Linked DNA regions of Homo sapiens. The protein of the gene in region 4 purifies or fractionates together with the protein of the main gene of each other region. This does not show direct contact. Each region holds a gene or a part of one and is shown on either strand. Other genes may lie near its edges. The genes, in order: ATP12A, CAND2, TBC1D9B and ADORA3.

What was found.
Region 1: the proteins of ADORA3 (region 4) and ATP12A purify together in Homo sapiens (affinity purification with mass spectrometry, with the first as the bait; 2 studies listed by BioGRID). This does not show direct contact.
Region 2: the proteins of ADORA3 (region 4) and CAND2 purify together in Homo sapiens (affinity purification with mass spectrometry, with the first as the bait; 2 studies listed by BioGRID). This does not show direct contact.
Region 3: the proteins of ADORA3 (region 4) and TBC1D9B purify together in Homo sapiens (affinity purification with mass spectrometry, with the first as the bait; 2 studies listed by BioGRID). This does not show direct contact.

What each region holds. Positions count from the first base shown.
Region 1 is NC_000013.11:24,690,393-24,697,424, forward strand, and holds part of ATP12A (potassium-transporting ATPase alpha chain 2), read left to right. Parts: coding exon 1-80; intron 81-211; coding exon 212-329; intron 330-571; coding exon of another isoform or gene 572-589; coding exon 590-858; intron 859-2,036; coding exon 2,037-2,235; intron 2,236-2,394; coding exon 2,395-2,504; intron 2,505-4,051; coding exon 4,052-4,186; intron 4,187-7,032. UniProt on the Homo sapiens protein: The catalytic subunit of a H(+)/K(+) ATPase and/or Na(+)/K(+) ATPase pump which transports K(+) ions in exchange for Na(+) and/or H(+) ions across the apical membrane of epithelial cells.
Region 2 is NC_000003.12:12,813,674-12,820,705, forward strand, and holds part of CAND2 (cullin-associated NEDD8-dissociated protein 2), read left to right. Parts: intron 1-1,467; coding exon 1,468-1,760; intron 1,761-2,193; coding exon 2,194-2,335; intron 2,336-2,700; coding exon 2,701-4,203; intron 4,204-6,412; coding exon 6,413-6,508; intron 6,509-7,032.
Region 3 is NC_000005.10:179,897,880-179,904,911, forward strand, and holds part of TBC1D9B (TBC1 domain family member 9B), read right to left. Parts: intron 6,934-7,032; coding exon 6,823-6,933; intron 1,429-6,822; coding exon 1,310-1,428; intron 1-1,309. UniProt on the Homo sapiens protein: May act as a GTPase-activating protein for Rab family protein(s).
Region 4 is NC_000001.11:111,500,634-111,508,113, forward strand, and holds the start of ADORA3 (adenosine receptor A3), read right to left. Parts: upstream 3,001-7,480; 5' UTR 2,722-3,000; coding exon 2,372-2,721; intron 1-2,371. Other genes in the region: TMIGD3 (transmembrane and immunoglobulin domain containing 3), read right to left, coding at 2,372-2,721.

The DNA.
Region 1 (7,032 bases), on a different chromosome or scaffold from region 4:
TGGTGGGGGACATTGTGGAGGTCAAAGGAGGAGACCAGATCCCTGCAGACATCAGGGTGCTGTCTTCTCAGGGGTGTCGGGTAAGCGGCAAGGGGTATCCACCCCAAGGACCATGTTCCAAACCTGCTGGCTCTGGGGTCTTTCCCAGCATCAGTATAAGAGGCAGGGAATGAGGTACCCAGCTGTGAACCACCTTCAACATTTCTTCTAGGTGGATAACTCATCTCTCACGGGGGAGTCTGAGCCCCAGCCCCGCTCCTCTGAGTTTACCCATGAAAACCCCCTGGAAACAAAGAACATCTGCTTCTATTCCACAACGTGTCTGGAAGGTAAAAGGCCTCTGGCTCTCAGCCCACATGTCCACCTGTGTCCTTTCTCCCTCCTGGGCTCTCAGGTCTGTCCTTTGCCACACCCCGTTACAAAGCTCATCCCAGAGGAAGCATGGAACTGAAGGGCCTAGAGGACGATGCTTGGCCTTGGGAATGTGGTGTGCCTATCGATTGTGCCAGCCCCCAGAGAGGGCTGCAAGCTGGCTGCACACCCCTCCTGGCTGAGGACCCCTGGAATAAAGCATCTACTTCCCCTGTAGGCACTGTCACCGGCATGGTTATCAACACGGGTGACCGCACCATCATTGGCCATATTGCCTCATTGGCCTCAGGAGTTGGAAATGAGAAGACGCCCATTGCCATTGAGATCGAGCACTTTGTTCACATTGTGGCAGGAGTGGCTGTCTCCATCGGCATCCTTTTCTTCATCATCGCTGTGTCCCTGAAGTATCAAGTCCTGGACTCCATCATCTTCCTCATTGGCATCATTGTGGCCAATGTGCCCGAGGGCCTCCTGGCCACTGTCACTGTGAGTCCATGCTGTTAGACAGCCTGCACCTGGCCCTGTGGACACAGCACTGGTGCTGGGGAGGCGCCCACACAAACTGCAATCTCCCCCAAGTCCAGAGCACCACGCCCTCCCCGCCAGCGACAACCCTGGAACATTCTGCATAGACTGTTCCTTACAGAGACAAAAAATTTGTCATATTTTCAATATTTGACTGCGTTTTCCTTGAAAACGTTATGCTTTCAATCTGCAATTCACACAGCTTACTCTGCCCCATAAGATCTAGATAAGACAGACTCCACCATTCACAGGTTTTCTAGAAGCTTGATGCCTTCCGCACATTTCTTTGGCAGTTTCTACAACTTAGGCATTTAGGCACATTGCCACACTCCACTTACCTCTCTTACGAAAAAAAAAAATTCCTCCCATTTTTCCTGCCGAGGACTCCAGCCCTTTCCTGGCCAACCCCAGACCCAGCTGTTTGTATGGGCCCATGTCATTCAGTCCCTAGAGAAGAGCCCCCTCCTCCTCAGTCTCTCCTGTGGGGGTCTCAAGGGGTAGGAGAGGAGGGGGTTTATGTTTCCAGTTTTGTGACTACATGATCATTGGCCTGCTATTGTCCTGACCAAAGAAAAGAGAAGAAGTTTTTGAAGTCCAGGTCTCCTCTGACTCCAGGAGATAGTAATTTGGGGAAATTGGAGCCAAAAGAACCCTTTGAGATCTAGGGGTTTAAAAGAATCTTTAAAATATGGAGCTTTTAAAATGAAACAACATAAAGGCTGCTGAATTCCCCAAAGCAACAAGTGTGTCCTTTGGGACAACTCTTTGGCATGCACTGGTCAGTCTCTCTTACACACTCCTGCTTAGGGATCACAGGAGGCGTCGTGATTGTACGTGAACACGAGCCACAGCAGCGTGTCCGTGTTTGCTGCCCGTGGGTCCCTTGTTTTCTTCAAGTCATGAAGGAACAAGAAAAGCATCTCATATTTAATCTTTAAAAAAGGATTGTGGCATAGAGGGCTCTTGGCGGCGTATAAGCCACCAGGTCAGCTTAGCTGCGCTGACAACCACACCTCTCCCCTAAAACTAGTCCAGCTCTCTCCTAAAATTCAATCACAGCTCACATTGGCTATTTCTGTATTATTGGACCTGAGTTCAAATGAGGATTTTTCCCAAAGCGTCCTTCCCTCTCCTGCTAGGTGACCCTGTCGCTGACAGCAAAACGGATGGCCAAGAAGAACTGCCTGGTGAAGAACCTGGAGGCTGTGGAGACCCTCGGCTCCACCTCCATCATCTGCTCGGACAAGACTGGGACACTGACCCAGAACAGGATGACAGTGGCCCATCTGTGGTTCGACAATCAGATCTTTGTGGCTGACACCAGTGAGGACCATTCAAGTAAGTCTTATGGAGAGCTCGGTCTGGCCAAAGCTGTGGACTCCATCCTGGGGCTGAGCTGAGCACACAGCAGGGTCTGCAGCCAGAGGATTGCTGGACAGTGACTCATGGACGGCCAGCCCAACCCACAGCAGCCACTGTTCTTTCTCTGTCTTCCAGACCAAGTCTTTGACCAAAGCTCTAGGACTTGGGCCTCCTTATCCAAGATAATAACATTGTGTAACCGAGCAGAGTTCAAGCCAGGACAGGAAAATGTCCCCATCATGAAGGTAATGCTTCTGCAGCACTTGGTCTTAAATCACAGCCAGTTTGTAGTCACTTGCTGAGGTCTGATTGGGTGCTTGATTTCATCTCTCCAGTTGCTTAAAGTTTGTTCAGTGCTTGCAAGAGCAAGTCAGACTCACAAGACATCCAGAAATTTTTCTTTATGCACACTAGCTTTGAGAATACAAAGATGCTTAAAAGGTTTCAGAATATTGCTTTAGCGTCTTCAGAAAATTCTGGAAATGAATGCACTTCTAAGTTACTTTCCTGACTTTTCTGCCAGCTAAGTGGATATAATCAAAGTTCCTTTTAATATACACACCATTCATGGAAATTTAAAGTGTGATTGAATAAAAATAAAAGGACTCCTGTTAACTAGAATATGGCTGCAGACAAAGCTCTAAGGGGTCCTGGAATATCGGAACATACAATAAACTCTCCCCCTCCCTCCCTCTCCTCCTTCCCTTCCTCCCTTTTCCTCTCCATCTCAATGAGTCACTGAATCCCTGTTCTCCTGGCTTTTCTATTTGCCATCTGTTTCCTTCCCTGACTCTTTTTCTTTCTTATTTTTTTGTTTGTTTGTTTGCTTTTCTCTCCGTCAGACAGCTCATGAATGCTCTTTTTGGCCAATTGCTTCTTTGTCGATATCTTCCAAATCTTTATGTCCAGCTCTAATTTCTTACCTCAACTCCAACCCGAATCTCTGGCTGGCTGTGTGCTTCCGCTAGGAAGTTGCACAAATCATGCTTGTTAACTTCCACCCGTACCCAGCCTGGCTGCACATCAGTGCCTTGCCGCAATTTTCTAATTGTCTATGATATAACCATTCTATTTGTCATTGGAACAGAATATTTGGAAGTCATCTTTGACTTTATCCTTTCCTTATATCCAGTAAGCCACCAAGTTCTATCATTCTTGCTTCAAAATATACATAACTTTAGTATTTGTCAGCAGTACCTTGCATCTAAATAGCCGATTACCGGCTGATTGGAATTAAACCTCTTTGATTCCGGTTTATCCCTCCTGGGGTCTTTCTCGAATGCCACTAATTTCCCTTAATGGTGCTTTTATAGTCACTTAACTTTGCTCAAAATCTCTCCGTACTTCCCTGTTTTCTGCTTCTCAAGTCTAGACCTCAGGCTACCTTTCAGGGCCCTCCAGGTCTTGCCACACCCTCCACATCCGCTTGTACCTTGAACACTCACGGACGAGCCTGCCCCTCATGCCCCTGCACCCGCATCCTGGTTTCTGGAAGGCTTTCTTCTCTGTGTATCGGTAACCCACCTATCTATCAAGATCTAGTTCGTAGCTGCTTTTTTCCACGAAATCTTCAGTCCTCGCAGAGGTCCAGCTTCTCCAAACATCCCTAATGCCAGTAGGTGGCACTGTTGTTTACACGCTTACCACGGTCTTGCGGCCCTCCCTGATCACGTGATAATGTCTCTCCAGCTAGGTGGTAATGGGATCAGGAGGGTGTGTTTTGGGTCCTATGCTGAGGGCATGTTGGTTCATTAAATATGTGCTGCAAATATTTTTCTTCTTTGATTCCCAGAAAGCTGTGATTGGAGATGCCTCAGAAACTGCTCTTTTAAAATTCTCAGAGGTCATTTTGGGTGATGTGATGGAAATTAGAAAAAGAAACCGCAAAGTAGCTGAAATCCCTTTTAACTCTACTAATAAATTTCAGGTGAGTTTTTCCTCACAACCGGTAATCTCTGTCATCGGCAGCATGACCTTTCTACTTGCATGCATCCTTTGCTTACCTCATATTTTGAAGGATACCTGGCTTCAAAGACAGTCGTCAGGGATACAGCACCCAGGCATCTGGTCCCCTAGGTCAAGCTCCCTTGCTGGCCTCCTTCCTAACCCTGAAGCAGGGCAGAGAAAGAAAGAAAGGCAAGGACTTCATCAGGGCCTGGCTGCTCCTATGAATGAGCCATCTCTGTCACAGGCACACACTCTCTCTCTCTCACACACACACACACACACACACACTCACACCACCACTATCAGGTACCTTCTGCCGTGAGGAGCAGCAGCCATACTCCAAAGCATAAATGCCAGGTGGGCAGCAGGGAGGCCGAACACCTGCTCCTCTCACCTCTAGTGCATCAGGCCCTCGACCTACGTGGCCTTGTTCCATGTTCGCATCCGGCCTGTGAGGTAGGACTGACGAATCCTGACTCAGAGGAGGAAGCAGGCCCTTAGAAAGTGTTGAGAGACCAGAGTCACACAGCACCCAGTGTTCCCAAGCCTGACACCAGGTCCACGATTCTTCCACCATCACACAGAGGGAGTGCGGCACAGTTCAGGCCATGGGAGCAAGCCCTGCCCTTTGGGGAGACCGGTGAGCAGCCCCTGGGGTGACAGCCCCGTCGTTTTCTGGGGCCAGCCCCTGTGCTGTGGGTGGGGGTCTCCTTTCCATCCCCTGCTCAGGTAGAAGACGGCCTTCCTTGCCTGGTTATCTCAGCAAGCAGGGCTGGCCGACAGTCAGCCATCACAGCCTCCCCATGTTAAGACAAATGACAGTTGGGAGCCCCAGGTCCCCATGCAGATGGGATTTTCCACAGAGCCCACACTGGATCTGGACTTGGGCTTTGCACAACAGTAAAGTATAGAAATGGAATAACCACAACTGTACGTGTGGAGATTTCTGGTGATTATCCACCTGTCTTAGTTCGGATGGAATTTAGGGTTAGGGAAGAACTCTTTTTTTTTTTTTTTTTTTTTTTTGAGAAGGAGTTTCACTCTTGTCACCCAGGCTGGAATGCAGTGGCACGATCTCGGCTCACTGCAACCTCCGCCTCCCAGGTATAAGCAATTCTCTTGCCTCAGCCTCCTGAGTAGCTGGGACTACAGGAATGCACCCCCTGCCCAGCTAATTTTTTTGTATTTTTAGTAGAGACAGGGTTTCACCTTGTTGGCTGGGCTGGCCTCGAACTCCTGACCTCCGGTGATCTATCCGCCTTGGCCTCCCAAAGTGCTGGGATTACAGGCGTGAGCCACCAAGCCCAGCCTAGAGAAGAACTCTTGTGTTGCAAATGTCTTCTTTGTGGATAGTGAGCCAACAGAGAATCACAGTTAGCTAAATAGACAACTAACCAGAAACATATGATGTAAAATACTCAAGCCAAGAAACCACATCTCTTACGTAAAACCAAAGTGAAAATAGAGTGCGCAACAGTCCTAAAAGACTGTTTTAGGATGAGTATTATTATACTAATAATACTAGTGATAATAGGAGCTATTCTGTGCTAATTTCCACAAGTATTAAATTATTCATTCGCACGACAACACTGTGGGGTGGCTAGAGGATGAGGAGGTTGAGGTGCCGCGCATCAGTGCACAGTGTGAAGATGGGGTTAGATGATGCCTCCATCAGCAGCAGGACTTGGAGCCCTGCTGAAGCTCCATCTCCCAAGGTAAAGGCATGCCCAGTTGCAAAAGGGAGAAAAAGCAGGTTCCATGAGGCCTCATGTACAAGTTGGAGGAGAAAGTGGCTACACAGAGTGGGACTAGAAAGGGGAGAGGGGGGCCGGGCGCGGTGGCTCACGCCTGTAATCCCAGCACTTTGGGAGGCCGAGGCGGGTGGATCATGAGGTCAGGAGATCGAGACCATCCTGGCTAACAAGGTGAAACCCCGTCTCTACTAAAAAAAAAAATACAAAAAATTAGCCGGGCGCGGTGGCGGGCGCCTGTAGTCCCAGCTACTCGGGAGGCTGAGGCAGGAGAATGGCGTGAACCCGGGAAGCGGAGCTTGCAGTGAGCCGAGATTGCGCCACTGCAGTCCGCAGTCCGGCCTGGGCGACAGAGCGAGACTCCGTCTCAAAAAAAAAAAAAAAAAAAAAAAAAAAAGAAAGGGGAGAGGGGCTGTGTGAGTTCCTGCTGAAGAGGTCGGAGGTGCTGTCTGGATGCTGTTAGGGTCATTTTATATCTACACATGAGCGGTGCTCAGCCTCACCAGGGCTTTAGATGTCATGGCCTTGGAAGGAGACGTCTCTGCGGGAAGGAAATAAAATGGAAAGCCTGTGTCTTATTGATTAGAATGGTGATGCCCCAAACACACTGGTCTGTTAAGACATTTGAAACAGTTTACGGCAAATTGGAAAATGTTTTATAAAGTTTTATATAAAGATGAATGTATTTAATTTAAAAGATTATCCTTTGTAGCCACCATGATTAAGGGCAGGGACTCTGGAGCCTGCTAGCCTGGGCTCAAATCCCAGCTCAGCCACCAGATAGCCACCTATTGCTCAGTGACCCTGAGTGAAGCATTGAACCTCTGTGCCTCAGTTTCCTCCTTTGTAAAAGGGAATAATAATAGTACCCATGGCCTTAAAGTTGTTTTGAGAATAAATAAGTCGATGTGGACAGCACTTAGAACAGTGCCTGGCACGTGGTACATACCATAAAAGTGTTTCATATTATCCCTATGTTTTAAATGTAAAAAGCCTTATCTTGGCCAGGTACAGTGGCTCACACCTGTAATCACAGCACTTTGGGAGATCGAAGAAGGCAGATTGCTTGAGCCCA
Region 2 (7,032 bases), on a different chromosome or scaffold from region 4:
CTGAGATAACACAACTAGGAATTGGCATAGCTGGGCCTTAGAGCCAGGTCTGTCAGGCTCCCCCACCTCTGCACTGCCACCGTGTACCCTTTTATGAATGGCTTTCAGGAGATAATGTCTTTAACCCAGCAGAGGAAAGCTCTGATGGTGGAATGGCAGGCACTGGCAGGGGAGCAAGATGTCTCAATGGGGGTGGACTTGATAGCTTCTTTCCTCCTATGCCTGTGGTCCTGTCTGTCATTCAGACAGATTTCCAGGGCAGAGATGCCCCTAGGCCTGAAGGCAGGGCATCGATGGAGACGATGGATTTAGAGCCTGATGGGGTACTTGGAACAAGATGGGATGGTAAATGAGATTGGACAGGCATGCGGGGGCCTTGAATGCCAAGCCAGGGAGGTGGGACACTTGTCAGTAATAGAGAGCTAAGGATGTGTGTTCGTGGGTGGCCTACTGTGGGGGTGACAGTGATCCATTAGAGGGGATGGCTGCTGAGCTGCCCGGTGGCCGTGGCCCACTGTGGCTGTCCAGACACCACCCTGTGGGTCCAAGTGGTCCACAGAGTGGTATGGGCAAGGCCATGCTGGGCTCTGAGCCTGTGCCTTGGGGTGCTCCCAGGCAAGACTGTCCCCCTCTGAGCCTCCTGTGTGCCTCCACAGGTGATAGGGCTGGGCCTCGTGGACCTGAATCTCAGCTCTGCTGTTCCTCGCTGTGTGCCCTGAGAGTCTCACCCGCTCTGAGTCTTAGTCTTATCGTCTGTAAAATGGAGCTTGGCAGTACCTTCACTTTTGAGGTGATGGTAAAGACTGCACGAGCCCTTGACTTTCAGGGAGATTGTCAGGTAGAAAGCCACACAAACCCAGCATTTCCTCTTTATTAATCCTGCCTGGAAGCCTTTGGAATCAGGACCCTTGAGAGGCAGAGATCGGGGGAGAGAAGAGGCCAAAGGGAGGCTCTGTCCCTTCTCCCTTCTGGAGTCCCAGTAAACGAAACATCACATAGCCAAACCTGATGCCAAAAGATGAGTTTTGTGCCCCAAATTGATTCTCCAAGTCTACATGAAGACTTGGAAGTCTGTTTTTTCCCTGGTACAGTCCAGACAATTAAGGGTCTGGAGGCAGAGGGGAGGACCCTAGTTTAACTCCAAGTATTTCCTTAACTTGGGGCAAGCCACTTCCTCTATCTAAACCCCAGTTTTCTCATCTCTATAATGGGGAAATAATCCCTGTCTCAAAAGGTCGTCATGAAGCTAAAATAAGATTATGGGTTTGACATGCTTAGCCCCATCCGTAGCACTCAGTAGATGCCCATTAAAAGGTAGGGAATGTTCCCCATAGGGTATCTATAAATGCTGATCATCAAAAAGTGAAGCACAGTGCCCAGCTCTCTCTCCTCCCTGTCCCTTCTCCCCCGAGCCACAGACCTGTCCTGGGAGATGAGGGTTCCACGTGTGTCTTGTTCCTGCCCCAGAGAGTGAAGACGAGTACAGCGATGACGATGACATGAGCTGGAAGGTGCGCCGGGCAGCTGCCAAGTGCATCGCAGCCTTGATCAGCTCGCGGCCTGACCTGCTGCCCGATTTCCACTGCACCCTGGCACCTGTGCTCATCCGCCGCTTCAAAGAACGCGAGGAGAACGTCAAGGCTGACGTCTTCACTGCTTACATCGTGCTGCTGCGGCAAACACAGCCCCCGAAGGGATGGCTGGAGGCCATGGAGGAACCCACCCAGACCGGCAGCAACCTCCATATGCTACGTGGACAGGTGGGCGTGCCTTCACCTCCACCCCTACCCCCGATTTGCCTACCCAGCCACTCACTGTTAGTGTCCCTGGACTTGGAAACTCAGCTGGGAGAACATCCAGCCATGGAAGGGAAGGGAAGGGGTCCCTGGGGTGGGGGGCGGGAGCCAGCCAGGCTTCTGGAGTGTAGTAGTGACAGCCAGCCTGCCTGAGTGAGCTTGAGCAAGTTGCTTGGTCTCTCTGTACCTGTAAAATGGACGCAGAAAATTTGCCTACTCTCCAAGGGTCTGTGTGCGGTCACCAAAAGCCTGGCACAGAGTGAGGGACGAGTGCTTGGGAGATATCTTGATGCCGACATCCTCCCTGGGGATGTGTCTGGCAAAGCCTCCTGGTAGTGGGCAGGTGGGTAGGTTTCTTGGGTGTTCCCTGACCTTGACTTCCCCCTCCTGCCCACAGGTGCCCCTTGTGGTCAAGGCCCTGCAGCGGCAGCTTAAAGATCGGAGCGTCAGAGCCCGCCAGGGATGCTTCAGCCTCCTCACCGAGCTGGCGGGTGTCCTCCCAGGCAGCCTGGCCGAGCATATGCCTGTGCTGGTATCAGGTAGGCTGGACTGCAACCAGGTATCTGCTGTTCTGGGCCACTTCCAGAACCCAGACCCCACCCCTGAGTTGAGCCCCCAGTTCCTGAGACAGTCTGAGACCCAATCCCAGGCTCAGTCCCTGGTCAAGAGTCTCCAGTGGCCTCCCACTACCAGCAGTGAGAACAAGGCTGGCTCCAGTGAGTTCCCTGGACATGTTTCCCTCAGCCCTGGCCACTGGTCAGGGCTGACTTCTTGGAAACTTCTGCAGAAGAGTTTAGGTGCTTCAGTCCAGCTCAGGCACTTGTAGGTACCCCAGCCTTGCTTCCAGGGAGGGCCGTGTTGCATCAGAGGCGGTGGCCTCATAACCTTTGCATTCACCCTGCAGGCATCATCTTCTCGCTGGCCGACCGCTCCAGCTCCTCCACCATCCGGATGGATGCCCTGGCCTTCTTGCAGGGGCTGCTGGGCACCGAACCAGCTGAGGCCTTCCACCCACACTTGCCTATCCTCCTGCCACCTGTGATGGCCTGTGTGGCTGACTCTTTCTACAAGATTGCAGCCGAGGCCCTGGTGGTGCTGCAGGAGCTGGTGCGGGCCCTGTGGCCGCTGCACAGGCCTCGGATGCTGGATCCTGAGCCATATGTTGGAGAGATGTCTGCTGTCACCCTGGCGCGACTTCGTGCCACTGACCTGGACCAGGAGGTGAAGGAGCGGGCCATTTCCTGCATGGGCCACCTTGTAGGCCACCTGGGTGACCGGCTTGGGGATGACCTGGAGCCCACGTTACTGCTCCTCCTGGACCGCCTGCGGAATGAGATCACCCGGCTGCCCGCCATCAAGGCGCTTACGCTGGTGGCCGTATCCCCACTACAGCTTGACCTACAGCCCATCCTGGCCGAGGCACTGCACATTCTGGCCTCATTCCTGCGGAAGAACCAGCGGGCTTTGCGACTGGCCACACTGGCAGCCCTGGACGCCCTGGCCCAGAGCCAGGGCCTCAGCCTCCCACCGTCTGCCGTGCAGGCCGTGCTGGCTGAGCTGCCTGCCCTGGTCAACGAGAGCGACATGCATGTGGCCCAGCTGGCTGTGGACTTCCTTGCCACAGTGACCCAGGCCCAGCCAGCCTCTTTGGTGGAGGTCAGTGGCCCTGTGCTCTCAGAGCTGCTGCGGCTGCTGCGTTCGCCCCTGTTGCCAGCCGGGGTTCTGGCAGCTGCTGAAGGCTTCCTGCAGGCCCTGGTAGGGACCCGTCCCCCGTGTGTGGACTATGCCAAACTCATCAGCCTGCTCACTGCGCCTGTTTATGAGCAGGCTGTGGATGGTGGGCCTGGCCTGCACAAGCAGGTGTTCCACTCATTGGCCCGGTGTGTGGCAGCCCTCTCAGCTGCCTGTCCCCAAGAGGCGGCAAGCACAGCCAGTCGCCTGGTCTGCGATGCCAGGTCGCCCCACTCCAGCACGGGGGTCAAGGTCCTGGCATTCTTGTCGCTGGCTGAGGTGGGTCAGGTGGCTGGGCCAGGCCACCAGCGGGAGCTGAAGGCGGTGCTCCTGGAAGCTTTGGGGTCACCCAGTGAGGATGTGAGGGCTGCAGCCTCGTATGCACTGGGCCGTGTGGGTGCTGGCAGCCTGCCCGACTTCCTGCCCTTCCTGCTGGAGCAGATCGAGGCTGAGCCCCGACGACAGTACCTGCTGCTGCACTCACTCAGGGAGGCCCTGGGGGCCGCCCAGCCTGACAGCCTGAAGCCCTACGCCGAGGACATCTGGGCCTTGCTGTTCCAGCGCTGCGAGGGTGCTGAGGAGGGCACCCGGGGGGTGGTGGCCGAGTGCATTGGGAAGCTGGTCCTTGTGAACCCTTCGTTCCTTCTGCCCCGCTTGCGGAAGCAGCTTGCTGCAGGTAGGCACACAGGTGTGGGCAAGGCAGCCCACCTCGGAGGTGGGCAGTTTGCCACTGAGCATCCAGGCAGCTGGGGCAGAGTGAGCTATTTCAAGTCACTGGATACAAGAATCACGGTATCTATACGACAGAGGCAAGGAAGCTACAGAGGAACACACAGTGATACCTGAGACTTAAAGCCTTCCTCCTATGGGACTGTGGGATAGAAGGGACAGAGTCCTTGATTGGTCCCTACAACAAATACATTTAAAAATCTCATGATGTTGGCTAGGCATGGTGGCACATGTCTGTAATCCCAGCACTTTGGGGAGGCTGAGGTGGGTGGATCACTTGAGCCTAGGAGTTTGAGACCAGCCTGGGCAACATGGTGAGACCCTGCCTCTACCAAAAAAAAAAACAAAACAAAAAACCTCATGATGCCAACTTCATAATCCTTGATGTGGACAGTAGCTTAGTGCTCCACACAGAGGTCAACAAAAACAGTTTTCCCAGTAGCCGTAGACTGCAGCCTGCAGAGGGTCAGCTCTTTCGGCTAGCCTGAGCCAAGAGCAGACGTCAGTATAGACGGGGACAGGCTGACATGCCCCCGAGGCTTGGAGAGGGCTGGGCAAGAACCAGGAGGGGCAGGCGTTTTGGCTTGTCGTGTTTTGGCACACCAGGTGTCTTAGCTTCAGGAGGTGGAAAGCAGACAGGTAGGGTCATCAGGCTCCTAGGAAAATGAGAGTTCCCAGAATGAAAGGCCAGTGGGCTTCGAGCTGGCCAGCTGGCCCCTTACAGAACCAGTGGATGCTCTGCTTGACAGAATGCAGGTACAGTGTTTGGTAACCTATGTGGTACCTACAGTAATTAATACTGAGTAAATCAAGAGCTGCTGTTGTTACTAGGTAGGTTAGTGATTTCAGTTAAGGCCTTCTTGGGTTGCTGGGTTCGTAAGAAGCAGTTGTCTGGCCTCAGGACTGGATGGAAGAACATTGTTGAGGACACTGTCTATTACATCACACAACCTTGAGAGACGAGAGTGTTAAGATGCAGAGGAGCCCTGCTTTGCCTAAACACCTATTTGTTTCTATCTCACGTGCACTGTTGAACCAGCCACCCGGTCACATTTCCTTTTTAGCACCAACTGCTGGGAAGCTTAGAGCCAGATGAGTGGTCTGCTTCTAGTAGGTTCCTGGGACTTCCTTATTGATGCTCTCTGTACATCTTCCTGCTAGTCTCCTTCTCACCTCCCTGCCTTCAGTCGTCCTTGGCCTTGTTCTTGTTTTCAGTTCACTTAATCTTACTCTCTTGTGCCTGTCTTCATCAGCCACCCTAAATCTTCCTGGGAGCCAGTCAGGCTGGCAAGGGAAAGAGGTAAAAGCTGAAAGTCTGAATTCAGTAACTCTTCCATTCATTCATGCCTTAGCACCAAATGGTAAACTTTTCCTCGAGGCTGAACATAAAGCCTGTGGGGTGGAAACACCTTAGCCCATTCACTGCATTGTGCTGGGGTTGGGCAGGGAGCAAAGGGGGCGAGCCACTGAGGAGAGATTCAGACGCAGGTGGAGCGTCCACCCATTCGTTTCCTTCATTAAGGGAATGTACTTCCCCTCTTTACTGGGCTTCTCTACTCAGAAAGCAAGCGGCAAAGCACAAGTAAGCAAGCTCTCTGTGACCGAGCCTGGAGGTGATCCGAGTTCTGTTAGGCCTCCCTGACCACCAGCCAGAACGCAGCCCCAGGAAGAGGGGCCCAGCCAGGAATTCTGGATCTGCTGTGTGGCCCTAGACATGAACTTAAACCCTCTGAGTCTCTCTTTCCTCATATGTCAAAGAGATGATTTTTATTGGTGATTTTATTGGTTCTTTTAATACTACTTTATTATTAATAGGATCATTGTTAGGACTCATTGAGATAACATGTCTGAAAAATCCCAAGGCCTGAGGGAAGGTCTTTGTTGGAGCAGTTCCTGTCTTGGTTATTGGTTCCCTGTTTGCAGCCTGTGGTGTTACCTGAGCACTGGCAGTCCTACTGTTTCAGCTGCAGCAGGAAGAATTGAGGGGAGATTCAAGGCTGCCAAGGGAAATGGTAGAATCCACTTTCCCAGAGATGGGGAGGGGGTACAGTTCTGTTTTCCAGGGAAGCAGGGGGAGGAGCCTAAGCACCTTCTGATCTGTGAGCCTCCAGGATTGGCCCCTGCCCCTCACTAACTCACCTCTTCTTGTCCTGCAGGTCGGCCACACACCCGGAGCACCGTCATCACAGCGGTCAAGTTCCTTATCTCGGACCAGCCCCATCCCATTGACCCCCTCCTGAAGAGCTTCATCGGTGAGCACCTACCTCTTGCCCCTCCACCTTGTTCAGTGCCCCCACCCAGTCCTTGAGCTTGGGCTGATGTTTACTACCCAATAGCCAAGGGCAATGGGAGACCCGGGAGGTGTGCCCATGATGGGCAGCAGGGCCTGGCCCTCCAGTTAAAAGGCCTGGGTTCACATCCCTGCCTTCCTACTGCCACTCAATCATGGGTGGGTGTGGCATGCCCATCACACCTCTAAGCCTCGCTTTCCTCATCTGTCAAATGGGCGTGAGAAACTCTTATTATCTGCATTTTCTAGAGTTGTCCTGGAAGCCCATGGGCAACTGAGGGAGAAGATGCTTCATCAACATATAGACTCTTGGGAATGGAAAACCACCAGCCTCTCACATGCCTTAGCTTTTGCGGGCCCCAAAGTGGGGCAGGGAAGAGTGCTCCCCCCGGCCCCGCCTGTCCACTAGATCGCCCTCTGTCTGAGGGGCCTTCTGGCCTGAGGAGCCCAAGCAGCCTTCACTGGGAGGAGAGGAACTGAGACCTC
Region 3 (7,032 bases), on a different chromosome or scaffold from region 4:
ATGTCTGTCCAGGCTTAGGAAGTTCTGGTATCAGGAATTCACATGGGCCTGCCCAAAGCAACTTTGCACCACACGACTTTGACCTGGTAAGAGCCCTCCCATGAATCTAACTTAAGGCAATAACCTAACAGAAAGAAAAAGACATATACATTCAGGCCAGGTGCGGTGGCTGATGCCTGTAATCCCATAACTTTGGGAGGCCAAGGTGGGTGGATCACTTAAGGTCAGGAGTTTGAGACTAGCCTGGCCAACATGGCAAAACCCCATCTCTACTTTTTTTTTTTTTTTTTGAGACGAAGTCTCATTCTGTCGCCTGGGCTGGAGTGCAGTGGCATCATCTTGGCTCACTGCAAACTCTGCTTCCCGGGTTTATGCCATTCTCCTGCCTCAGCCTCCCGATTAGCTGGAACTACAGGTGCCCACCACCACGCCCGGCTAATTTTTTTTGTATTTTTAGTAGAGACAGGGTTTCACTGTGTTAGCCAGGATGGTCGCGATCTCCTAACCTCGTGATCTGCCTGTCTTGGCCTCCCAAAGTGCTGGGATTACAGGCCTGAGCCACCGCACCTGGCCTTTTTTTTTTAATTGAGATGGAGTCTCACTCTGTCACCTAGGCTGGTGTGCAGTGGCACGATCTCAGCTCACTGCAACCTCGGCCTCCTGGGTTCAAGCAATTCTCCTGTCTCAGCCTCTTGAGTAGCTGGGATTACAGGCGCGTGCCACCATGCCTGGCTAATTTTTGTATTTTTAGTAGAGATGGGGTTTTGCCACGTTGGCCAGGCTGCTCTTGAACTCCTGACCTCAGATGATCCACCCACCTCGGCCTCCCATAGTGCTGGGATTATAGGTGTGGGCCACCACACCTGGCCCTTTAAACTGTATATTCTGCATATATGAATACACTGTAGGGTAAACGCCAAGAATGGAATTTTTGGGTAAAGGGCATGTGTCTTTTAAAATAACGTTAGTTTTATTATAAAAAACAACTCAAAATATCCAATTGTTTCCAGCATCTCTTCTGGCAAACAGAACCGTCTATCTGCGTACGCCTTCCAAGGCACTTGGGTAGGAATGGAAGCCCCGCACTAGGCTTCAGCAGCCTCCAGTGCCCACCCAGGGTAAGAAGGGGTTTTCCTGGGTCACGAGTTCCTCTGCCCCTTTCAACTCCAAGAGAAGGAGCGCTGACACTTCAGTCTCCACCTTTGTAAAATGGGGACGCACCCTACATCGTGAAGATGAAATAGGATAATACACGAGAACACTGCTGGCCAGGGAAGGGTGAGAACAGAGAGTGGCGGGTAAACCTTACGTGTATCTTGCCCTTGACGAAGGTGGTGATATCTTCCTCACTGTCGAAGATGGACAGTGTCTGGAGCAAGTTATTTTCCAGCCATTCCCAGTGTTTTGTGATCTCTTTGCGGGAAGAACCTAGAAGAGGTTTGGTAAAGTAAAAGAAAAATCATGAATTCCCCAGGCCTTAAACGCACATTCAAAGAAGCGAGATGAAAGTGGGTGACCTCATTTGCTAAATCTAAGTGACCAGAATCTTCAAGCTGCTTTTCCCTCTTAAGCTGATGGATATGTGCATAACAAAGTAATAAATGGTCCTGGTAAAAAAACAAAAAATTAAACGTCCAGGCTGAATCACAGTCGTGTGGGAGAGAATGTTTCCACCTGTCCCTGAAGCCAACAGGGAGAGTCACTAAGTCTCCTATGTGTCCTAGAAATAGTCTGTGTGCCTGCAAGCTTGCTAACTTACACTTTTCCTCAAGTTGAAAGAACTTAATGTGGCTTTTGCTATGTAGGTGATTAATCAGACACAGTCATACTTTGTATAAATGAGTCCAGCTCTTTCCTGAGCATCTAGGTATCCACAGATAAGCAGCCGGAGCTTCCTACAAGACTCCAGGCCCCTGGCCAGCGAGGCTCCTGCTGGGCAGGCGAGTAGCTACTGTCCCTCTCTTCAGTTTCTCCTGGCCACCTTCTTACCTTGTGTCTGCCCCACCTAGGAGGGAGGGGGTCCCTGTCCTCCATAGGCCCAACGGAAATTAAAAAAAATGTAGAGAAAATCTGGGCGCCGTGTCTCATGCCTGTAATCCCAGCACTTTGGGAGGCTGAGGCAGGAGGGTCATTTGAGCCCAGGAGTTCGAGATCAGCCCGGGCAGCATGGCGAAACCAAAAATACAAAAAATTAGCTGGGCGTGGTGGCATGCACCTGTGGTCCCAGCCACTCAGGATGCTGAGGTGGGAGGATTGCTTGAGCCTGGGAGGCGGAGGCTACAGTGCAGCCTGAGTGACAAAGTGAGACCTCGTCTCAAAAAACAAAACAACACACAAAACAAAAACGTAGAGAAGGCAGCACGATGCCACTTTCAAAGGCTGGAAGAATTGTTTGCTCCCATTAAGGAATCGGGGAAGAAGCCCCGGGGGAAGAGCAAAGGGATGAGGGGAGATCTCTGCCTGGCCTGGCTCCCCTACCCCCAGCACCTGTTTCTGGGGTTTTGCCTGTACTGAATGAACACAAGGATGAGGAGTGAATGACACCCTGAATCATTCTCAGCTGTCCGGGGGTGGGACAGGAGGCCCACCCACCAGGCATGAAGACAGCCTCAGCCAAGACATGGCAGATTCTCGTTATTCAGGTGGTCAGATTCTGTAAGGTGGCCGCGAACACTGAGTTAGCGAATCCTGAACCAGTACCCTGGGGGAACACAGGGTTAGGTTCCTGGAGCCTCTAATCACACTCTTGTCGACTGACCGATACATAACTGTTTTACATGTTTCTGTTTAAAGATGCCTTATTTAATACGTATCCCTGATCGATTGGCATTGAGCTCACGGCCAGCAGCACTATCACTCACGCCTGAAAGAAGCTGCTCGCATGCACGGATCTCCTTCACAAGGCACAACTCAGCCTTCTTGCTCTTAGGAACAAGAGCACTACGGCACTATGCTCGGGAGGCCAGTGTGACTGTGAACCAGACGTCTCTGCTGGCACGCCTGCCCCGACCACCTTCCTTCCCTCCCTGACCAGGCTCTTCTGCCAGCTGGAGACAGCTCTGACCCTCCCTCCAGGCCAGGCTGGGCCTGTCACCTGCTCCAGCCCGTGGCACCCGCTCAAGGCTGTGTCACAGCCCGGCTGTTCTGCTTGGGACTGATTTGTTTGCTTTGTCAAATCTCCTCAAGCAGACCCTGACCTAAGAAGCAAGGCCACAGGATAGATCCTCCCGATTGGCCTGGGGGAGGATGCCCACGGGAAAACGATTCCACCCAGAATCACACAGCTTGCAGTGAGTCACAAAAGGCCCCCAGAATTACTCCTGGAAGCCCCTTAAGTCATCCATAATTCACTTTAAACTTTTTTTTTCATTTTTCTTTGCATTTCTATTACAGCCTCCTTTCCCTGATGCACAGAGGCCAAGGCCTAGTTGGTAGGTAGAGATTTCTTTTTCGGTTTCTTTGCCAGGAACCCACAGTTGAATTTGGAAGTCAAATTTACATGTGGTGCAACTCTACTGTATTATTTTCTGTTACACATAACATTCCTAGAAAACTAAAACAGAAGAAATCTCCTCCTCGCTGCCTGTGTGGATGTGTCAGCACTTTAATTAAAAATATTTATAGGCCGGGCACAGTGGCTCAGTCCTATAATCCCAGCACTCTGGGAGGCTGAGGCAGGGGAATCGCTTGAGCCCAGGAGTTTGAGATCAGTCTGGGCAACATGGCTGTCTCTACAAAAAATAGAAAAAATGAGGCATGGTTGCGTGGGCCTGCAGTCCCAGCTAGTCAGGAGGCTGAGGTGGGAGGATCGCTTTAGCCAGAGAGCTGCAGTGAGCTGTGATTGCACCACGGCACTCCAGCCTGGGCAACAGAAAGAGAACGCCTCAAAAAAACATTTCTTTTTTTACATATGTGCATTAAAAATATTAGTTAAAAGTAACTCAATCTTCATTTCATACTAAGAAACTATTCCATCTCTATGCTAGGTGCTGGGAATAAAAATAATATAATAGCTAATTAGAGTATTAAATGCTGTTTCTGTTTTCAGAGTTTTCCATGGATTATCTTATTTCATTCTCAGAACACAGTGGAGACAGGTACCATTATTTTCATTTTACCAGATGAAGCTGAGGCACAGAGAGGTGAAATAAGTTACCCAAGGTCACACAGCTGGGAAGTGATCAAATCAGAATCCTAACCCTGGGTGCCTGGCTGCAGAGCCTGCCCTCACCCTCGGAAGCTCCCGGCCTCATGGGCTTCCACGTAAAAGCGTGTGCAGACACGTCATGTCCAGAGGAGTAAGGAGGAAGGATGGGTCTGTGGAGTCTGGGCAGTTCTCAGAGGAGCGGGAGGGAAGGTTAGCTGGCATGGCGGACACTAGGCACAGCAGCCAGGAGGGGTGTGGCTCCTCCAGGCCCTGCAGCTGTGTGGTCCGGCTGAAGGCCAGGCTGTGAGCTGGGGAGACAAGGCCAGAAATGGAGGCAGGCAGACCCCCAGGTGTCCTCGAACACCAGGCTCAAGGGTCAGGACTCACTAAGCAGGTGCTGGCAGGGCCATGTCTGGTCTTGGTGAGTTGCTTCTGGGGCCTAGCCTGGCTGGCAGGAAAGGGAGGCACAGCCAGGGCCAGTGCAGGGCTTTGGGCCTGGCAGGAGGGGAGAGGTCAAGTGTGTGGCACGGGGCTACGTACATGGGCTCCGCTGCGTGGCTGTGGCTGGGCCCCTCCCCAGCACCAGGCCTGCTGTGACTAAAGGGATTCCCACTCTGCCCCTCGTACTTTTCTCTCCCCAGGGACGGGCAGCTCTTGCTGCCAGAGATGGAAATCTCAAGGGCCCATGTTAAAGCAGCTCCTCTCCTCATTAGCACACACCAACCTCCTGGCCCACTCAGAAATGGTCCCCTCCCCACAGGAAGCCCCTCCTCTGGCAAACTCTTGCTGCCCCCAGGGTCCACTCAGGCTCTGAAGCCAGAGATCGGGGGTCTAACTGGGCTTCCCTGCTTGGCCTTGGACAAACTCCCCTTCCTAACTCTTACTGAGTTATTCAGTCCTGCAAAGGAGAAGGGCACTGCTGGTCAGGATGCCCGTGCAGAGCGCCCACCTGGGAGTGGGGCTATTCCCGGGGTGCCGCCCGCCCTGTGCTTTTACTTCCTTGACCCTTCCCCTCCTGAAGCTGGGTTCCAGCCGTGAGGTTGACAAACTTTTGAGTCTCATCATCTTCTCCCAGGCCTTCAAGGGAAACCACTACCCTGGAGAACAAGGGCACTGTGGCTTCTGCTTCAGAGAGGTACTGAGAGGGTCCAAACTGCAGCTGTGTGACTCTGAGCAGGTTACTCAACCCCTCTGGGCCAGAGTTTCTTCACCTTCAACATAGAGAAGACCAAAGTACTTATGCCTTCTGGAGGTACCGGGTGGTTCAGGCAAGTGCCTGGCACACAGGAAGCACTGTCTGAGCGTCAGCTAGGACTGTCATTTTCTCAGAGCAAACTCAACCCAGCAGGTACCCGCTGAAAGGGGACTTCCCTCCGCACTCTTGGACGGGTGAGTGCGCTTCCACCTAGGAGGACAACTACAGCGGATTCTCGTTATTCAGGTGGTCAGATTCTGTAAGGTGGCCGCGAACACTGAGTTAGCGAATCCTGAACCAGTACCCCGGGGGAACACAGGGTTAGGTTCCTGGAGCCTCTAATCACACTTCTGTCGACTGACCGATACATAACTGTTTTACATGTGTTTCTGTTTAAAGATGCCTTATTTAATACGTATTCCTGATCGATTGGCATTGAGCTCACGGCCAGCAGCACTATCACTCACGCCTGAATGAAGCTGCTCTCATGCACAGATCTCCTTCACAAGGCACAACTCAGCCTTCTTGCTCTTAGGAACAAGAGCGCTATGCTTGGGAGCCATTTTAAACAGCCAAGTCATCAGCAACGAGCACAAACATGGGAAAAACATGGCACTGCAGAGACTGTGAACAGGACACGTGAGTGCAGTATGAGAGCTGAATCAAGAAGGCAGAGCGTCGTCCTGTTCTGCCTCAGCTGGGGACATGGGCATCAGGCGAGTCAAATTTTTCACTGCTTTGAACGTGCATGTGTCCATGAGTGTCTCCAAATGACCACAAAATCGCTGGAAGTATTGATTTGGGGATTGCAAATACATTTTATTGAGTAGGCCAATTTGCAAATATGGAATCTTTGAATGAGGCCGACTACGTCTACCTTGAGAAAAGGTGGCATGAGAATGTGGACATTGGCTAGCCCCACACCTGCGTCCCTAGAGGTACATGGGGATCCATGGGGCTGTCCTCTCCTGCCCTGTCCCCATGACCAGTGGAGCTGCCTTTTTTTTTTTTTTTTTTTTTTGAGACGGAATCTCGCTGTGTCGCCCAGGCTGGAGTGCAGTGGCGCGATCTCGGCTCACTGCAAGCTCCGCCTCCCGGGTTCACGCCATTCTCCTGCCTCAGCCTCCCGAGTAGCTGGGACTACAGGCCTCCGCCACCACCCCCAGCTAATTTTTTGTGTTTTTTAGTAGAGACGTGGTTTCACCGTGTTAGCCAGGATGGTCTCGATCTCCTGACCTCGTGATCAGCCCGCCTCGGCCTCCCAAAGTGCTGGGATTACAGACGTGAGCCACCGCACCGGGCCACGGAGCTGCCTTTCTAAGATGGAAGCGAAGGCTCCTCCACTTCCCTCTTGCAGCCTTGGGCTATGCTGTCAGCAGGGAATACCACCCAGACACGTGGGCTACACACCCCTTCCTCTCGGCAACGGCCCTTCCAGGGCAGGCCCTGCCCAGCACCCCTCACCACTCAGGGCACCTACCACACGCCACTGTCCAGTAGACCTGGGAGTCCTGGGTCTGGTGCAGGATGCGGTAAGGGGCCACGCGGGCACTGGAGTCCAGCACCACGTCCAGGGTGCCCACGAGAAGACCTGGGAACAGGGCAGAGAGACATAGAGGGTGAGGGGAGGGCCGGACTGAGGCCCCTGAAGGCTGAGTCTGGCCGGAGGCAGACAGGATGGTGACGCTAC
Region 4 (7,480 bases):
GAGAGAGAGGTGAGATAAGGCATATACTCTCTTAATTCTCCAATCTTCTGCTAAGAGAGGGCAGCATTGATATCCTATGGTGATTCCAGCTAAACTCCACTGGATACGAAGACAAGATGAGCAGACAACGATTGGAGAAAAATCCAGGAAACTTCTCTGGGGACTTTTCTAAAGAAGAAAACTCTTGAATGGATAAGGAGGATGTTGCCTAGAGTCAAGTGCTTACGTGCTCCACTCAGGGCTCCACTTACTGAGAGCTATACAACTGTTACCTATCTTTTCTTTTTCTTTTTTTTTTTAACTCAAAAACATCCACAGGTGAATTCAGCAGTTTAAGTCCCCCTTGAACTCAGTTTACTCCTTCTGTTCCCAATAAGGTGTAAGCCTAAGAATTATTCAGTTCCTGGGAGCTGAGATTCATCTAAGTCTCCTAGGATTGTCTGCCTGGTGAGAAATGATATTCTCAAAGCAAGCTTGCCTGCTGTTCTTGGCACTGTTCTGTTTGGCTGTTGTGCAGATTCTCATAAATTATACTATGCCTCCCCGACACTTCCCCTCTACCTGTGCCTGCTCCTGCTTCTCTATCTTCATGGGCATCCATACTTGGTATTTGAGTTAAATGAATCAATGAAGTTACAAAATTGTATTGAAGTGTTTCAGAGACCTTAAAGGACAGTAAGAGTAAGAGTCCCCATTGCTCCTTAAACTGTCCTTCCTGACAGCAGCCTATACAGACCACAAAAAGGAAACAAATATAGTTAAGTATCAGTAGATTTTTATCTCAATTAAATCTCACAACAAACAGGAGATATTTTATTATAACCTCAATTTTATTGATGGCAATTGTGAAAATAATAGTAATGATAGCCACCATTTATTGAGCACAGACTGTGTGACAGGTATGTTTCTAAAAGCTTTACATATGTTAACGCATTTCATTTTATGAGGATAGTGCAATTATCCCCATTTTGTAGATTAAAAAGTGAAACACAAACAAGTAACTTCTACAAGTTAGAAGTGGTGGGGCTAAAACTAAAACAAGGTAAGTCTGAGTTCCGAGCATCGTAACCACTGTGATACAGAGTGGAAACCAAAGGAGATAAAGTTAAACAACTTGTTCAAGATCAGATCTCTAATCTGGGATTTGAACCTAGACTGTCTACATCTAAAGCTTGTTTGTAGCTCCCTCACTCTGCTCTTTCCTCCAGAGAAGTGACGAGAAACACGAGACCAATGCAATTTAGGTCACCCGGGGAAGTAGATTTCTCCATTTGGCAGTTCGTTCTATTCATATGGTCACATGTAATGAAGAATATTTTTACGAAAAAAGCTCTCACATCTCAGGAGGAGGAGGAAAAATATACATATATATAGGATATATATATTTATTATATTATATATAGGATATATATTTAATATAATAAATATATAGGATATATATATTATAATAAATATATATAGGAGATATATATTTAATATAATAAATATATAGGATATATATTTAATATAATAAATATATAGGATATATATTTATTATAATAAATATATAGGATATATATATTATAATAAATATATAGGATATATATTTATTATAATGAATATATAGGATATATTTATTATAATAAATATATAGGATATATATTCATTATAATAAATATATAGGATATATATTCATTATAATGAATATATATAGGATACATATATTTATTATAATGAATATATATAGGATACATATATTTATTATAATGAATATATATAGGATACATATATTTATTATAGTGAATATATATAGGATACATATATTTATTATAATGAATATATATAGGATACATATATTTATTATAATAAATATATATATATTGGAATATATATATATTCCAAGAATCCCTTTCTCAACATTGAAGTAGGCACAGAATAGGAAGCAAAGATAAAATAATAACCTACATTTGCAAAACAACAGAACCATCAGTTTATCTCCTCTTATGTTTATCTGCCTGCTTCTCCTAAAATAATAAGTCTTATCTAGTAGGCTTTTATCATTTCTAAAACTGAAGAGCATTTTTTACTAATTAAAGATGCATCAAGATTTCATCATTTTTAGCCAAGGATTAGTAATTACAGCTGGAGGGATTGAGCACCCACCCCTAGTCAGTGGAGAAAGGATTGGAGCATTCCTCTGATTCTAGCTCCTGAGTCCCAGCCCATTGTTGCTAACCCCCTCACAGACCATATCACAAAAAGACACTTATTGCCCTCTTTCAACATCAAGGGCCAATTTGGATACATTTTTACTCAAAAAGTCTGGGCTCTGGGCTTTGTAGCCTCATTTCCCAGCTGCCTCAATTGCTGCCCACCCCACGCCGCAGGCTACCTGACGGTAAGCTTGACCCGCAAGTATCGGTCCACAGCGATGGCCAGCAAGGACATGATGGAGGCGTGGGTAAAGATAAGCAGTAGGCAAGTCATAAAAAGGCAGCTGTAGAAGTGGATTGTGATGCCCAGGCTGACAACAATGGCCAAAGGCATGACCAGCACCCCAACAGCAATGTCAGCCAGGGCTAGAGAGACAATGAAATAGAAGGTGGTGGTCTGCAGGCTGGGGTTCAGCTTGACCACGCAGATGACCAGCACGTTGCCCACTATGGCGCAGAGTCCAATGAAAATTTCCATGGTGATGTAGGTAACATTGGCCAATGACAGAGCAGTGCTGTTGTTGGGCATCTTGCCTTCCCAGGGGAACCTCCACAGGGACAGGTGAGCCAGCAAGATCCGTCTGTAGGGCCAGTGGGCCTAGCTCTCGCCAGACGTCTTCCCAGAGGTCCATGTGCAGTGACAGTCTAAAATTCCCAACTTGCTCATTCCTACCCTTTTCTGGTGGGGTGATCTCTTGGAAACCCTTCTCCTTAGAAAGGGCTCATCACAGGTGGGTCACTTCCAGCCCCTTTATGCACCGCACATCCTCAAGTTTCCAGAATGCTGTAGGACAGCTCTATATGGACTGAATCTGAAAGTGCTGCTGCTCTTAGTTCCCCAAACAGATGTCCTCAACGCCTCTGCCTGCAGCTTTTTGGCTTTTTGAGTTCCATCAAGATAAGCAACCCTCTTCAGGGGTGTTTCAGGAAGTGAGATGGGCCAAGAGGAAGTACAGAGCTCAGAACTCTCAGCAAAAAGATGGAAAGAGCAGAAGAGGAGCCATGAGTGGCATAGAGAAGGCTCGAGACAAGATTGGGTATCAGAGTTCATTCATTCAGGGACCAGAGGACAGTGCAGGATCAGGTGGGAGCAGAGCTGGAAGCACTGACTATGCAATCTTTCTGCCAGCTTAGCAAAAAGATCTCATGATAAGGAGGCAAACGGGAGAAGCAGAGGAACAAAAAAGAGACTTTGGTGGCAGCCTCCTAACCTTAGCCAGAACTATTCCTGCTAAGTTCTTGCACGAGTTGACGCTTTGCTGAGCACAGCCGATACCCAGCCTTTGCAGCAAAGATCCTTGGTCAAAGGGATAAGCAAAGATTCCCTGCTCAGAAGGGCAAAAACTCAGCACCTCTGAGAAGCATCACACCTGCTTAGCCTCCACCTCTCTTTCTCAGCTCACACCCTAGCAAAATCACACTGGCACTTATGCTGGCAGCCGGCCAATGTCCAACCTATGTGAGGAACGACAGAATAGCAGAATGACCAGACATACAGAAAGAAGGGAAAAGAACGTGTGCAACAGAATCAAATGGCATATCCTCCTGCCCACATTCCCCAAGCCTCAGCCCCATCCCCGCAGGAACAGGCGACTGTCTGGGAATCAGCCCCCTCTCCCTGAAGCTGCTTACCTAGTCACCAACTTCTGGGAACCAGACACTTGCACGCCATTGTTATTTGGGGACCCACTTGGTTCAGGTGCTTCTCAGCACCATCCAAAGGGATTATTTTAACCAGGCGTGTTAGAGAGGCAGCAAGAAGGAACACTTGGACCCAAACCCACACAGTGGCTTGAGGGCTTTATCATTTTTACCTTAAGCATCTAAATATGTACAGCCCAAAATAAAATTCAGCAGTAACAACAATGGCGTTCTGGTGTTTACTAACAAACACTTCAGAGTGGGGCATAAGGGAGACGCCTCTGCCTGGGGCTCATCAGGGTCCTCTTGTTAGTTGATCTGCTCTGGCATCATTCATTGATTCCACTCCCGACCCCCACCCTGTATCCCAAGTTGATCCAAGTCTTACCAAATCCCATACTTGTCCCCGCCAGACTTGTCATTTCTCCCTGAGCAGACTCCCCAGACATTAAAAAGGGCAGTCCTCTCCAACTGAATTTCCATCATTCTAGTATTTTCCAATGTCAGTTCTGCCCACATCCCTGCACTGCTGGAACTTGAAAAGCTTCATCGGCCTCCAATGTGTCCCTCATAAATGTTTCTACTGTAATTGTTTTCTTTATCTGTGCTTCAGAGAAGGAAGTTACCAAGAGAAATTTCTAGGAGGCAGCACTCTGCCAAAAAAAAAAAAAAAAAAAAAAAAGAAGCCTTTCTCACTATATAGCACTCTTTGAACCTTAGTTAAATACTGCAAAAAACCCTCCCTCCCCTACCCCAGTACATAGGTGAGTTCTTTTGGAATCAGTCCATCTCAGCTGGGTCAGAGAAACCAAGGAAAGGGGTTTGTGTCCAAACACAGCATGCTGTAGGCAAGATACCACATGAAAGAATAACCCACTAGAGAGAATAAAGGCAGGAGACACACTTAGGGTCACCAGCCCAGCCACCTCTGCCCATCTGGGAATTCTACCCTCAGAATTCTCTGCACATACCATGGGGGTTTCTTTTCTGTGAACAAGAGAAGCCCTTCCTTCATGTTCTCTGAATAGACAAGGTCCATCAGTGCTGGGTGGGGTGATTTGAGAACAGAGGAGAAGGACTTTCACAGTCACTTAACATTTTGGCCTGGAACCTGACCGTAGATTGAAAACCAAAAGGCAATCTGGGAAAGAGGACAGAGAGGCTGGGGCAGAAGGTCACTTCATTTGCCCATTCCTACCGCTGCACCCACAGCCCATGGCGCACAGCCACTCTTGGTCATGTGCCTCATCACATCTCAAGTAGGAGATGCTGCAGCCTCCTACTCGGTGCCTCAGGCAACCAGAGGAACCACGCCAGAGCTCCATGCCCAGGATGACCCCTGCCCCTTCTAAACCATTTGGTCTGCACATTGCCTTAGGATCAAGTCCAGACTCCTTAGAGTGGCTTATACCCTTCTGATGGGTCTCCCAGCCTCTGCAGTCTCCTGTCACCTGGGTCCGCACAGACACCATTGGCTGCACCAGACTGAGCAACTCGTGGCTCAGAGTCATTCTCTTTCACTTCCTCTCCCCTGTGCACACACTCTTTGTCTGGTTTGCAGGGCCCTTCTCCCCCAAGTCCATCTAGAAAACAAATACTTTTCCTCCAAGACTGTTACCCAACAGGACCTTGAAGAAAACTTCCCAGTCTTCACCTCTCCTCTGGGACCACACTGTGCTGTGTGTATATGACTTCCCCGCTTAGCCTGTAAGTTCCTGGAGGACAGGGACCACCACTTTCCATTTCTGCATTTCTCGCCCCTACTATGATGCCTGGCAGATCATGGGTGCTCAGTACATTTTTGATGAATGAATAGGAAAGCACTTCAGTGAATCAGGTGGCATAAACTAGGCATTGGGTATATAAGGAAACAATAAATCAGCGAGGACTCTTAAGTGCTCTGCATCATACCAACTACTCAGTGTTAAGCAGCTTCTATTCACAGACTCATTCAATGCTCTCGAATGAAATAGATACTACCATTATGCTGAGCAAGTTGAGACTCTGCGGGGTTAAATAACTTGCCCAAAGTTGTAAGCTAGGCAGTGGCGAAGCCAGCATTCAAACCCAGGCTTCTGCTTCGGAGCCCAGGTTCCGAATGGCAGCCCTCAGTAAGTAAATGAGCAAATAAACTCTACAAACCTTTCAAAAGTACAAGGAGTCCCTGGGTTTGATGTTGCCATGCTATCAAAATCAGTAGAGATCAGTATTCTCAGATCTAAAAAAGAAAGTAGCCACCAAGACTATGGGCACAAAGCACAAGTATAATGTAGATTTGGCAACTGCTCTGAGCTAGGAAGAGATGGCAGGACCAGAGAGATGACTGCATGAGCAGGTCGCTGGTAAGGCTGGGGCCCCAAGGTGAGCTCTGGGCCAGAAAGGAAACCATTTTTATTGGATCAAGGTACAATTTTTTTCTTAAAAACAAAAAATATATATATATATATTATATATATATATACACACACACACATATATATACACACACATATATATATACACACACACACATATACATATATATACATATATACACACACATATGTGTGTGTGTGTGTGTGTGTGTGTGTGTGTATATATATATATATATATATGTTAACTGTAGTTAACTGTGGTTCAGGAGAATTTCCCACCTAAAAGAAAGGCCATGGCTGTTTTCAATTTTACTAGAAGAGGCTGGGTGTGGTGGCTCAGCCTGCAACCTTAGCACTTTGGGAGGCTGAGGTGAGAGGATTGCTTGAGGCCAGGAGCTCAAGACCAACCTGGCCAACATACTGAGACCCCACCTCTATTTTTTTTTTAATTAAAAATAAATTTTAAAATTCTACTAAAAGAACCTGAACTCCATCAGGGAAGCAAAGATCTAGGAGAAACCATTGGCTTAAATCACAGGAAGAGTGACTGGAGGGGAAAGGCCTCACCTGTCCCAAACCCTGGCCTGGGGCCTACTTGGGTCTGATGCCACTGGGCACAGCTCAACCACAAGGCTGCAACCTTGCCCTTGGGGTTCCGCTTAATAATCTGAGAGGCTGGCAGCAGAGATGATTCATCTGATCCTTTGCAGCTTCTCAGAAAACCCTAAAAAACCCCAGTTGCCAGCCTACAAAAACAGCAAGATGCAGTGTTAGCAGGAGCCCAGGGAAAAGGCCTCTGGAGCCCTAGAGCTGGTCCACGGGCAGCTAAGACCGGATGTCAGGCAGGCGAAAGGTGGGGCTTCTGCCCAAGGCTGTCTCCCACCCCACGGCTGTCTGCAGAGTTGCACAAAATCAGCTTGCTCACTTCCTCTTGGCCCCATCACCACTTCCCCAAAGCCTTACATTTTTATAGAGCTTCATGTTTGCTAGCCGACAGCTGAGGCTTAGAAAAGACAAGTGCTCAGGGTCAGCCCTGAAGGTGGCGCTTCCTAGGCCCCTCCCCCACCACTCTCCGGGCTCTGCCTCTCCATCAAGCCCCGGGGGTCAGGCTGGGCTTTCCCGCGCCGGGGGCTGATCTGGAGCCTCTGTCCACACGGGCCTTCTAACCAGGGCCCAGCCACTGAGGCCAATCCAAGGAGCCCAAGACTCACAGGCTGTAGTCTGAGCACAAGGAGTTTCACTCCATGCCAGTGTTGGTGGGAGGGAGGGTGAGGCCTGGAAAGGGAGGTCAAG